Linked DNA regions of Homo sapiens: regions 1 and 2 are each linked to region 3. The links come from fine-mapping of genetic effects on gene expression. A gene starts in region 3. Each other region holds a variant in brackets. All regions are shown on one strand. Distances are between the middles of the regions. Region 1 overlaps CTBP1 (C-terminal binding protein 1). Region 2 overlaps MAEA (macrophage erythroblast attacher, E3 ubiquitin ligase). Region 3 holds the start of MAEA (macrophage erythroblast attacher, E3 ubiquitin ligase).

Evidence for each region. PIP is the estimated chance that this variant, and not a neighbour inherited with it, causes the effect.
Region 1: its variant is fine-mapped to the expression of MAEA in whole blood (TOPMed, PIP 0.95).
Region 2: its variant is fine-mapped to the expression of MAEA in thyroid (GTEx, PIP above 0.99). The same link has a PIP of 0.9 or more in spleen, testis and visceral fat.

The regions. Positions count from the first base shown.
Region 1 is chr4:1,220,965-1,225,017 of GRCh38, forward strand. All of the region lies in intron 5 of CTBP1 (C-terminal binding protein 1), which reads right to left. Among named protein-coding and RNA genes, the nearest start is that of CTBP1-AS, 13 kb to the left of the region's middle. The variant C/A (reference allele first, on the strand shown) is at 2,116.
Region 2 is chr4:1,328,450-1,332,502 of GRCh38, forward strand. All of the region lies in intron 5 of MAEA (macrophage erythroblast attacher, E3 ubiquitin ligase), which reads left to right. Among named protein-coding and RNA genes, the nearest start is that of UVSSA, 17 kb to the right of the region's middle. The variant A/G (reference allele first, on the strand shown) is at 2,088.
Region 3 is chr4:1,288,213-1,292,265 of GRCh38, forward strand. MAEA (macrophage erythroblast attacher, E3 ubiquitin ligase) reads left to right here and starts at 1,679. Exons shown (of 9, transcript NM_001017405.3): 1 at 1,679-1,770. The coding sequence starts at 1,702. It overlaps LOC105374347 (a long non-coding RNA gene), which reads right to left and starts at 1,359. Exons shown (of 3, transcript XR_925046.3): 1 at 673-1,359. It overlaps LOC105374346 (a long non-coding RNA gene), which reads left to right. Exons shown (of 2, transcript XR_925043.3): 2 at 1-82. RefSeq lists silencers at 1,200-1,609, 1,710-1,989, 3,078-3,260.

The DNA of each region.
Region 1 (4,053 bases), 67 kb before region 3:
TGGGCTTCATAAAAACTGAAAACGTGTTCTCGTCACAGAGAGAGGTCAAGAAAGTGAAAAGTCAAGCCACGGCCTGAGATATTCGTAAACAAGAAAAAACAAAAATTTTGAAATTATGAAAATATCCACAATGCATGTCGATCTGACAAGAACCTGACGCAGACCACGTGAGGGCTTCGTAACCAACACGAAAAAGACGGCCGGAGGTGCTCCGAGTGGCCAAGGGCACAAAGAGGTGCTCAGCCTCCTCACTTATCAGGAAACTATAGGTTAAAATTAAAATATCACAAAATACCTGCTGGAAGGGCTAGAATTACACAGAGTGCTGGCAAGGATACGCGGCTGCCGGAGCATGACGCCGCGCCCCTGCCTGAAGAACAGCGACTCCTTCCAGGCGAAACAATGTCCTGCTCTGGGACTCAGAAATTCCACTCCTAGGTACAAACCCAAGAGACGTGAGTCTATGTGCACAAAAAAGACGGGCAGAAATGTGTTCACACAAGTTTTGTTTGTAATATTAGCCAAAAACTTACAAAATGCATCACCAAGAGTCTGGAGAAGCAAATCGTGCTGTGTTCACGTGATGGAACCGTTATCAGAAACTGCTGGGTCGTATGAAAACACAGGTGAGACCCAGAGGCATCACCCCGACTGACGGGAGGCGGACACAGAAGGCTGCGTGCCCGTGATCCCACCTCGGCACAGCTGGGGAAGGCCCTCTGCTCTAGGAAGCGGGACCCGGGTCCTCGCAGGGTCGTCGCGGGGCCGCCACGGGAGAAGGGGGCCCGAGGGAGCTGTCTGTGTGCAGGAGCCTGCTCTGTCAACGTGCTGGTGGGTTCATGGGGTGAATGTGTACAATGTTTTCCTGTGTGCACCTAAGACAGTGCATTTTTCAGAAGGAAGGAAGGAAGGGAAGGAGGGAGGAAAGAAAGAAACAAGAAGGAGATGTAAGTCACGGGCACCAGAGCCTCGTAGAGCAGAGGAAGCGGCCGCCCCCTAGTCTGCGCCGAGTGGCACCAACACCGTGAGCCACACGCTGCCCAGGGCTTCCACATTCCTGTAGCCACCACACACGCGGATTCCACGCTAAGAACAACCCAGACAGTGTGTGCACAGCAGAGGGCAGATGGGGACATGCACACCCTGGGAGAGCCTGAGTGGCTGGTGCCCAGCACCGGCCCCGCCTGGAGCATGAGGCTCTTCCACAGAGGGTGGGATGGGGCTCAGGGACAAGGGCGAGGGGCGGGGCGGGGGACGGGACGCAGGTGTTCTGCAGTCAAGGGTGCCAGGTGGGCAGCCGGGGTGGGGTAGGGGTCCCGTCCACAAGGTAGAGGCTGCAGCGTCAGGGGGCTCGTGTCCCTAAGGACAGAACTGCTCTCCTCAGCTCCCGAGGCCGAGGGAGCGCTGACCTGGCCTGGTTCATCACAAGATCACCACAGACAGAGGGGCCCGCGCCGAGAGCGAGGGAAGCAGCTGCCCCCCAGCAGCTCCAGGGGGGCCTGCCCGAGAGCCCACAGGACGACCTGGGCCAGTGCAGGGCAGAACGCCCATGGTAAACCCCCACAACCTGCCAGGTCCACCCTGCACTCCTCAGGACGCCGGGGTCCCCGCACCTGCAGTCCCCACCCACACTCCTCAGGCCAGGCCTGGGCGGGGGCCCTGGCAGGTGGGGTCCTTAACGAACGGGGTGGCCACAGCCCTACCCTCTGAGGGCATCCCGACCTGGGTGTTCCAACCCCCACTCAGCACGGGGCCCTGGGAGGGGCTGGTTGGGCCCAGCTCCACAATCAGCCTGGGAAGGCGCCGCCCTCAGGCCTCAGAGTGGCCACGGGAAGAGCCCGGGGCCTTCAGGGCCGGGACCACAGACCCCGACCCCAGGAGAGACAGGACACATGACTCTGGGGGCAACACACCCACCTACTCTTACCAGGGGAACTACAGACATCCCTGGCCACACAGACACAGCCCATACCCCCCCCACATCCCACAGTCCCTCGTACACCTCAGGTGAGGTGTCAGACCTGTGGCTGCAGGACAGGCGGTGACCTGCAGGCAAGGCACACATGAGGCGCCTCCTGTCCTGTGGGCTTGCTCTGGAGACAGCGGAGGCACCGC[C/A]CCCTGGACAAGGCCAGCAGGCAGTCCACGAATCTGAAGGTCCACAGAGCCCCGAGTCCCCGGCCCCTCCCGACCTCTGCCCCAACCTGGGCTTCCTGCCCACCCTCCCTCCTCCCCTCAACAAACCACACATGCGGGCCATGGCCCTGACATAGGAGGGGCCGCCCAGGCCTCAGATGGGCAGAGGTGTGAGGAACAGGCACCTCAGGGCTCTGGGATCCTCACAGGCTCCAGCCAGCCCTGGGGTCCTGGTGGGGGCACCAGCAAGACCGTGAGAGACGTGTCCAGGAAGAGACAGGCACGTGTTCCATGCACATCCGTGAACCAACCTCTCCCACTAACCTAGGTGTGGCCGCCTCACCGAGACCACCCGAAACGTCCGATTCCCCAAACGCTGGCGGGACAAGGACAGCGGTCAGCAGGAGTGGGCTGCCTGGATGTTTGGGAAGCGGGGGGCCGGCCGGTCAAGGGGAGTCCCTGGCATGGCAAGGCCCTTGCATCCCCATGGGGCCTCCTGAGGAACCCGCGATCTGGGGAGACAGGCAGCTGGGCCAAGGTGTCCAGGGAGTCTTCAGAAAAGGTACACCACCCCCGCCCACCCTCTCAGGGAGCACCTTCCCACCCCACACCTGGGCCCCGCCCAGATGCTCCCCCTCCCTCACGGGGCCCCTCACCTGGCCTCTCCCAGCTCTACTTTCCCTTAAGACATGGCTCTACTCCCAGGATCTCACACACGCACACACACACGTGCACAAACATGCACACGCTTGCCGCTCTGAGCTCAACCTGGGCCTGGCTGTGTGGGGCCGGTTCACCGCTGCATGCCGGACCCAGGACAGTGCTGGGCCCAGGATAGGCGGCTGCAAAGCGAGTGGGCAAATGAAGAGCGAGGGGTCGCTGAAAGGCAAACCACTCCCCGGGGATAGGGCCAGCGCCAGGGGCAGCTGCTGGTGACCACGGAGGAAGCCCACGGCTGCCCGAACCCCGGCCCCAGCAGGATCTACACAGCCAGCTCCAGGGGACTCAAGGGGCGAGCACATGCTAGACCGTGGTTGATGTGCGTGCCCACACATATGCCGGTATCTATCTGCGTACGTGCCCATGACTGACATCAATGTGTGTCCATGTGAGGTCATGTGTATGGTGTGATATCCATGTGTGGTGCCCATGTGTGCCATGTGATACCCGTGTGTGTGTGCTGTGACATCTGTATGTCCCCGTGCGGCCCATGTGTGTGCTGCGATGTCCATGTGTGATGTCTGTGTGGGGTCCACGTGTGTGCTGTGATGTCCGTGTGATGTCTATGCAGGCCTGTGTGAGACCCATGTGTGCTGTGTGAGGCTGTGTGTACTGTGACATCTGTGTGTTATCTGTGCGTGCCCATGAGGCCTGTGTGTGCTGTGATGTCCGTGTGTGATGTCTGTGAGGCCCACGTGTGCTGTGGCGTGTGACATCCGTGCAGGCCCGTGAGGCCCACGTGTGTGCTGTGACATCCGTGTGTGATGTCTGTGTGTGCCACGATGTCTTGTGTGAGGCCTGTATGTGTGCTGTGGTGTTGTGTGTGACATCTGTGCAGGCCCTGTGTGCTGTGACGTCCGTGCAGGCCAGTGTGAGACCCATGGGTGTGTTGTGATATCTGTGTGAGGCTGTGTGCTGTGACATCTGTGTTATCTGTGTGTGCCCGTGAGGTCCACGTCTGTGCTGTGATGTCCATGTGTGATTTCTGTGTGCGCCCGTGAGGTCATGTATACTGTGATGTCTGTGAGGCCCACATGTGTGCTGTGGCATCTATGACATCCGTGCAGGCCAGTATGTGTACTGTGACATCGGTGTGTGATGTCTGTGTGTGCCATGATGTCTGTGTGAGGCCCACATGTGTGCTCTGATTTCTGTGTGAGGCTGTGTACTGTGACATCCGTGTGTTATCTATGTGCCCAT
Region 2 (4,053 bases), 40 kb after region 3:
TCACTCACTTTCATGGAGGTTCCTGAGCGGCCAAGCCTTGCGGTGACGCTTGAGTTGCTGTGTGGGGTGTGTGGGCCTGGCTGGCCCTCAGCTCCCGGGCGAGTGCCCAGCAGGTGTGTTTGCCAGGAGGGGGCACCTGTCCATGCCCACAGAAACCCGACCGCGACTCCATATCCACCTGCAGTGGGCCGGGTGGCCGAGTGTTCCACAGAAGGCCCATTTGGAGAAGTGGGCGTCTCACGATGAGGTGCTGAGGGTGGTCCCCAAGACGCACGGCAGAACCGCGGCAAGTCCCTGCCCTTGCGTGGACCCTGGAGAGGCCCGGGGTCCTGCTCCGGCTCCTGATGCTGACCTGGGCGCATGGTGGCAGGTCAGGCCTCGTCTTCACGCACGAGGGAGCCAGGCCTGCAACGAGGTCCCTTCTGTGCCTGAGAGGGCTAAAGCGGGGATCTCGGGACCCGGGCCAGTGGAGAGTGGCGTGTGAGCATTGCGGGGACACGGCCAGGGGCCCCCTGTCAAGAGGAGGGGCTCCCGCTCTGCTCTGGCCTCCGTGTGGCCTCGGTGCCTGTGTCGCTGGCCTCTGTCCGGCGGCAGTCTGCTTCCATCCCGAGTCAGCCTCCGTCTCCTTGAGGGCCCCGGCCACTGTCAGCCCTGGAGTCTGAAAACAAAACGTGTCCATCCCGGAGTCCCTCCGTCACAGATGTCTTCATCTAGGTGGCAGCTGGTTCCGCATAGGGTCTGTTGACCTGTTACCCCCACTCCGCATAGGGTCTATTTGCCTGTGTTACCCTGGCTCCGTGTAGGGTCTGTTTACCTGTGTTCCCCCCGCTCCGCGTAGGGTCTCTTTGCCTGTGTTCCCCCCGCTCCGTGTAGGGTCTCTTTGCCTTGTTCCCCCTGCTCTGGGTAGAATCTGCCCTAGAGACTCGCGGGGCCTCCACCTCATAATGTCTGAGCCGAGCTCAGAGCTGTGCCCTCTGCGGCCTCGTCTGTTGCAGGGGAGCAGGCAGGTCCCAGGAAGTGCGTGTCCTTCCTCCCGCAAGCAGACACGTGCTGCCTCGAAGCCTCAGCAGCCAGCCGGGCAGGCATGGCAAACAACACCCCAGTGTCTCGGGGGCAGGCGCAGTGTGAGCTACATCCTCTGCTGGGGCCGTCTTGGGAGTGGTTCTCCAGGTGCCAGGGCCTGGTCAGGGAAGTCCGGCCTCAGCTCAGCGTGGCCCTGGAGCCACCCACAAGGCACACGGGAGCTGGGCTGGGGTGGCAGGTGGGGCATCGGCAGGACGTTTGTGGGGTGAGGGAGTGCGGGTGTTTGGCTGGGAGCCCAGAGGGTGTTGTGTATCACTCACTGAGGCTGGACAAGAGGGAAGGCGGAGAAGCCTGGCCACATGTCTCCTGAGGGCTCCAGGCAGGGCCCTCTCACCTGCTGCCAGGGTCCCAGCCCGCAGGAGCTTCCCGTCCACCTCTGAACTCACGGTCCACATGGCGCTGGAGCGTCGGGCACCATCTACAGGGCTTGAGGCCAGCAGCCTAGCCTCTGGGTCCACTGGGGCAGGCAAGGTGAGTCCTGCTGTCTGTGGAGCCAGCGTGCTGGGCCGGGCAGGGGGCCTCGTTGGCTGGGGTGGCTGCAGCTCCGCCCTGCCTGGGGCATTTGTGGGTTTTTGCGAAATGCAAAAGTATGAGCTGCTAGTGATTAACTTTTAACGCCTTTAATTTTTAGTAAATGAGTAAGTGAATCCCTGACCCCAGGCGGCTGGGACCTGGCCTGTACTTCATGGGCTTTGTGTGAGCAGCTCCGTGCCGTCTGTCGCACACCCACACCTCAGCCTGGCCAGGCACAGTTTAGGAATTTTGTCTTCTGGGTGTTTCTCTCTCTCTCTCTTTCCGTGTGTGTGTGTGTGTGTTTTGAGGTTGAGTTTTGCTCTGTTGCCTGGCACAATCTCAGCTCACCGCAACCTCCGCCTCCCGGGTTCAAGTGATTGTCCTGCCTCAGCCTCTGAGTAGCTGGGATTACAGGCGCCCACCACCACGCCCGGCTAATTTTTGTATTTTTAGTAGAGATGGGGTTTCACCATGTTGGCCAGGCTGGTCTC[A/G]AACTCCTGACCTTGTGATCCGCCCACCTTGGCCTCCCAAAGTGCTGGGATTACAGGCGTGAGCCACCGTGCCTGGCCCGTGTGTTTATATTTTTAAAGAAAAATGGAAGTTTTTGTGTTTCTTATGTTAGCTGCATTTAGTTTGTTAAAAGTCACGGTTTTGTTTCCCCTGTGTCCTGTGGATGCATACCGTGCTGTTCTCCCCGGACCTGCTCTGAGGGCCCCACATCTCGGCTGCAGTTCTCTGTGTGTTGGGGCTGAATGCTGGCATCAAACGATCTGAAAAGAGTCAGCCGCCACTGTTAGGTTTTCTGTTTCTGTCTTGGGGTCAGGATTTGTGGATCAGGGACCTGGGGTGCGAGGTGAGGCAGCTTGTTAGGCGGATGATGTCTGTCTGGGGTTTGATTGATGGTGAGATAAGACGCGTAAACCAGGTCATGCAAATGAGATCTTGTAGATGTCAACCACGGAGATTAAATTTCCTCTCTTCAGCAGCTCTGGGAGGAGGTGAGATGCCCGTTGGCCGTGTTCTGTGCACGTCTTGGCGTGTGACGAAGGGTGACTTGTCTCCAGAGATGGAATGAGGGGGTTGGGTGGGGCTCCTCCTGGACTCAGACCCACGCCCACCCACACGCTCCAAGGAGGGGGATGCATGGGCACTGGAATCTCGGATGGCCGTCCCCAGCCCCTGCACACGCACCCTGCGGGGTCAGCCGTGTGGACTCACCCCCGACTCCCAGTCCCTGTATGCACCCTGCGGGGTCGGCCGTGTGGATTCACCCCCGACTCCCAGGCCCTGCACAGGCCCTGGGGCGTCAGCCATGTGGACTCCCCAGGCTGGGTCCCAAGCGTGGACGCCCCCCACTCCCTGCTGCCCCGGGCTCTCCTGGTGGTGCTTCCAACACGTGGTCCCCGTGCTATCCATCAAGGGGCTGCTGGGCCACCTCCTACACTAACTCCAGTCTCTGCGAGACACTGCATCTTCTCCAAGGCCACCGTGAGCGCCTGGCACCTCCTCAGCCCTGTGTTCCTTGGTACATGCCTTGTTCTGGACAGCACAGGGCTGACTCACACATGGGACTTGAGGCCCCTGGTTCTGTGCATTGGGGTCGCTTTGGCAGAGGGGCCCTGAGGGCTGAGAACGTGGGGTGCACAGGGGCCCGTGTGAGGGTCAGGACATGGGGGTGCAGGCCCTCAGGACAGCCAGAGGGACAGTGACCCTGTGTGTGGGGGGGGGCATGAGAATGGGGGCCCTGGGGGTGAGCAGGTGCCCGCTGGTCAGCTTGAAAGGGATCTGTTATGTTCTGCTTTGGTTTCTTGGTTGCCCAGCCTTAGACTGGAGTGGGGTTCTGGCCTGGAGTAGGCCTGTGTGCATCCCGCAGAGTTGGCTCAGGAAAGATCGTGGCTGCATGTGGTGTGTGGCACGCTCAGGGCTGAGAGGGCTGGGCCGGATCTGCAGGGAGTCCAGCCTGTGGGCTGAGGGAGGCTGTTCTTCGGAAGGTTGTGCTGGGCGTCACTGCCAAACAGCAAGGACTGCAGTTGAGAAGACTACACGTTCTTGGTCCGCTGGGGCCACGGGGTCCGTGGGGGCGAGCATCTGGGGAGAGTGGGAATCCTCAGGGTTTGGGTTCCTTGTAAACCAGAATCGCTTTGGAGAGCCCTCGGGGGCAGGTGCCATTTGCAGTTCTGGTGTTTTCCGTGGGTTGTCTGTGTGGCTTGGGTGCCCTGGTCCCCTGGAGGAAGGAGTGTCTGGTAGCTGCTCCTCCAGCCTCTGGTGAGCCGCACCTCCCGCCATCCCAGCCCCACCCAGCAGGTCGGCTTGGAGTGAGGCGATTACTTTGTACCTAGACTCTGACATAAAAGCTGTTAGCTCAGATTTTTCAACTTAAAAATGCAGGCCGGGTGCAGCGGCTCATGCCTATAATCCCAGCACTTTGGGAGGCCGGGGCAGGAAGATGGCTTGAGC
Region 3 (4,053 bases):
GCATGTGTTCTGAGGACCTCTTGAGGCTGTGTCACTGGTCATGATCCTTAACCTTGGCAACATAAACTTCTAAACTGATTGAGATCTGTCTCAGACACTTTTTGGTTTACAAAAGGACTAATTCAAATACAGTTTTATCTTCCAACATAAGAAAACCTAGAATGAATGACTCAAAGGTTGTAGAGGGTTAAACAACCTCTCCAACGTGCAAACCTCTGCCTTATAATTCCTAAGTATTTCTGACTGTAGATGGTACTAGGATAGGATCATTTTACCATGGAAATGAAACCCGTGTCCTTTCCTTTGGGTTAATCTTGAATCCCTGGTGAAGTGAAGGCAGTCTCTAAGAGGAGTGCAGTCCATCCAACTGCTGCAGTGCTCCTGTGTACTACTGGGACCATCCCGGAGAGTGGCAGACACGATGCGAACCGTGAAAGGACGCAAAGAGTACAGAGTGCATGCTTCCATCTCTATAGGAAGGTCAGGAACGCTGTTACGGGGAGCAGGGTTAGAATGATGGGGATATAGCCCGGGAAGGGGCAGAGGAGCTTTCTGTGCCACGGGAAATGTCCTAAATCTCAACCAGGACACGGTTAGATAAAAGTGCAAATATGGGTGAAAATTCATTAAAGCTGTATAGTTAAGATTTGTGCACCTCACTGTAAAACTTACTTCAAATGTCTAAAAGACTGGAGTCTGCAGCCACACACTTGAGGAATAACACTTTCCTTAGTCCCAACTCCTGTTTAAGTAAGACAGAGAAAGATTCCACAGTGCGGGTCGGATGTCTTGCGGCTGTAACATGTAGCAGCCTCCAAGCGGAGGTTCTCCCTTCATCGCTGTGTCACCTTAGATGTTTTTCCTTTGTTTAAACACCAAATATTTTAAAAGTTGTTTAGAAATGTGTTATGTGAAACACAAGGTGGTTTAATTGGGACGTCATTTCCTAATTAATAAAATCTAATTTCAGTTTTATTTTGGAAAGGAGGGAGACGGGTGGTGTTTGAAAGGCTGAGAATGTGAAGTGGCTGAAATGAAGGCAGCGCACGACCTGGATGCCAGCGCTGCCCGCCCTGCAAGGAGAGGGCGGAGAGGCCACACGCTTCTCATGCTTCGGGAGTTTCTGTCCATAAATCAGTTTTAGGTACTGGGCCTTTCCTCTTCCGTTGGGAAGTCGGAGGTTCCACATCAGGATTCCAGCAGCTGTAAATCGGTCAAAATAAGGCCAAAGAAAAATAGCTGGCTACAGGCGCATGCGGCCAGGCGTTTTGTTGGCGTTGCCCTTGGTACCGCAGGCACGAGGGACCCACAGGGGACCACCCCGCGGGAGCCCCAAGTAACTGGACGGACGCCAAGTCCCCCAGCCCGCTCGGCCCCAGCTCCACCCGCCCGGGCCGCAGCCCGCACCCCATCGGCCCGCCCCGGGCCAGGAGCATCCCCAGCTCCGGCGTCTGCGGCCTGAACCCGGTAGCGAATTCAAGGTGGAAACCGCCAGCCGGGGCTATCGTTGATTGGCTGAACGAGAGGAAACCCGGCAGTGATTGGTTCGCGCCTTCTTCCGCCTCCGGCCGACTGGGCGGATACGATTGGTGCAGGGGCATCGGCCCGCCCCCATCCTGCTCCGGCCGGCGCGTGGCGTCATTTCCCGGCGTGCAGCGCGCTCGCGCGTCCCCCGCCCGCTAATGTTTTGGCCGCTTCAAGATGGCGGTGCAGGAGTCGGCGGCTCAGTTGTCCATGACCCTGAAGGTCCAGGAGTACCCGACCCTCAAGGTGGGCGCCTGCGCCGCGCAGGCTGAGGGCAGCGAAGGCGTCTCCAGCCAGTGCCCTCGGGCCGCGAGGGGCCGCCCCGGGAGGGCCAGCGGCGAGGGCGGCGGGAGCTGGGCGCGGCCTCGCGGGGCCGTGCGGGCTTCTCAGGGGCGCCCGGTCCGCGCCGGGCAGGTGTGGCGGGGGCGGCGGCTTTGGCCCTGCCAGGCGCCCGACTGTGGCCCCTCTGCTTGAAGAGCTGCGTGAGCCGAGCCAGCGACGACTCTGGCAGCGCTAAGGGTGGCGAATTTGGGGCTGGGGTGGAAGCCGGAGTTTGCGGGGCGTGGGGTCTCTGGCGCCCAGGCAGACGGAGTGCGCGGCGTGCCCAGCCAGTGCCCGGCCGCCCTCCCGGGAGCCCAGGGCTGGGAGGTGCCGGCTGCGCCGGTCGCTAGTTAGGAACTGTAGGGAGAAACCTCACGGCCTGATGGCACCCAGCGACCTTTTTGATGGGCGTCACCAAACCTGAAATACAGCTCTTGCCGTCCGGCTGCCGGTTGCGTGACCTTGGGTGGTCACCTAGCCACGTCGCACTTCTTAGAATGAAATTTGTGCTCCTAGTAGAAGGAGCCGATACTTGTTCTTTACCTAGTTAGTAGAGGATTTGATATGAAGCACCTGGGAAGGAATTCCTTAAAAGATCAAGGTCATAGCTTTCCTAGAGCTGCGGCTGAGCTTCGTGGTTCTGTGTTGCCTTCCTGGAGAGCTGCGTAGTTTCTCTCTCCTCCCAGAGCGCCCTGGTGTTCACGTCCGTCTGAGGACGGACGGTGTGGCGACAGGTGTGGAGGATGCAGTATGGCCAGGTTGCTGTGCGTTCCCCCAGCCCCAGGGCAGTTCAGCGAAGGGCTGAAGAGCACAGGCTGTGAGCCATCCTGCTGGGGTGTGAATCAGGCTTCTCTGTATTCGTCCTTACTGGGAGACATCAGGGCCCGGTTGGTGACTGTTTATTCTTGTCAGGTTTAAGCAGTGGTAGCGCCTGTGTCACCTCAGGGTGAAATGAGTGACCACGTATTGTTTCAAACAGTGCCTAGCATTCATTAAAAGGTCCCTGCTACAGTTAGCGCTGCTGAAGTCAGGCTGTACCCTGCTGTAGCTGGTCTTCATAGGAAAGCAGAAGCAAGCTTCTCCTCCTCTTTATTAACTAGCGGTTTATTTCATATTTTTAAAAAGAAACGGGGTTTCACTGTTGCCTAGGGTGGTTTTGGATTCCAGGACTTAAGCGATCCTCCTGCCTTTTGACCTCCCAAAGCGCTGGGCTGACAGGTGTGAGCCACGCGCCCGCCACACTAATGGTTTCGCAGTGGGGTTTCATGGTGCTTGTGTGTCCAGCACTTCTTTTGATCAAGGAAGGGAGGGCAATGTTGCTGACGTTACCAAAGGTCTAGCCTCTTGCTAGATCCCTCCAAGATGTAGGTGGTTGGTTTTTAATACTCAGTGACATTGGTGGATCTCTGTTGGTTTAGAGATGGAGACCCTGCAGCTGAGAGAAGTCTATACAAGGACATTGTGGTGATATTAGTAGGGAGTCCTAACCACTGACCACTTTGTCTCACGCAGTGCACCTCCAGGCCTGTCATTTCAGCTAACACACAAGAAGGTTTGAAGATCAGAACCGTGGTGGTTTGTCACTTCTGGTACTGGCTGGTGAATGTGGGAAACACTAGATAGGAAAAGTTTCCAGAAATCCTTTCATTGTGTATTGAAGGAACTAGGAAGGGAGATGGAAGGTCTCCGGAAAGGATTCTTCTTCAGGTCTTCTGCTGTTTTGTAATCGTGAATGTAATTTGTATTCCAGAGTGATTGCATAGCTTCTGATTAAAATAGTCATGCAGATAGTCATACAGGTAAAGAAATATTATAGTGTCATAATTTCTCTGTTGACACTTGTGTCACTACTGAGTTAAAACTTTTTTTCATAGAAGTTTTCAGGAGTGATTCCTAGTGGATAATGGAGGTGTTTTGCTGGGAAACTAGGGATCCTTGATTTAGAAGCATTTATTGGTATAGAACTAAACAGAACATGCTGAGCTCACAGCTCAAGAGCTGCACTCTTCAGTTTCCAGGAGGGGCCAGTGCAGATGTCAGAGAAGGGACCGAGGGCTGCAGGACCGGGGTTGTGGAAGGTGGGGGGTGGATGTTCTGCTTCTCTAGTCTGAGAGCAAGTCCTCCTGCAGGGTGGTAGCAGCTGGCATGCTCTGGACTGGATCTTCACCTGGTAATAGTTAAACTGCTTTCCTGCCATGTGAGTCCTCC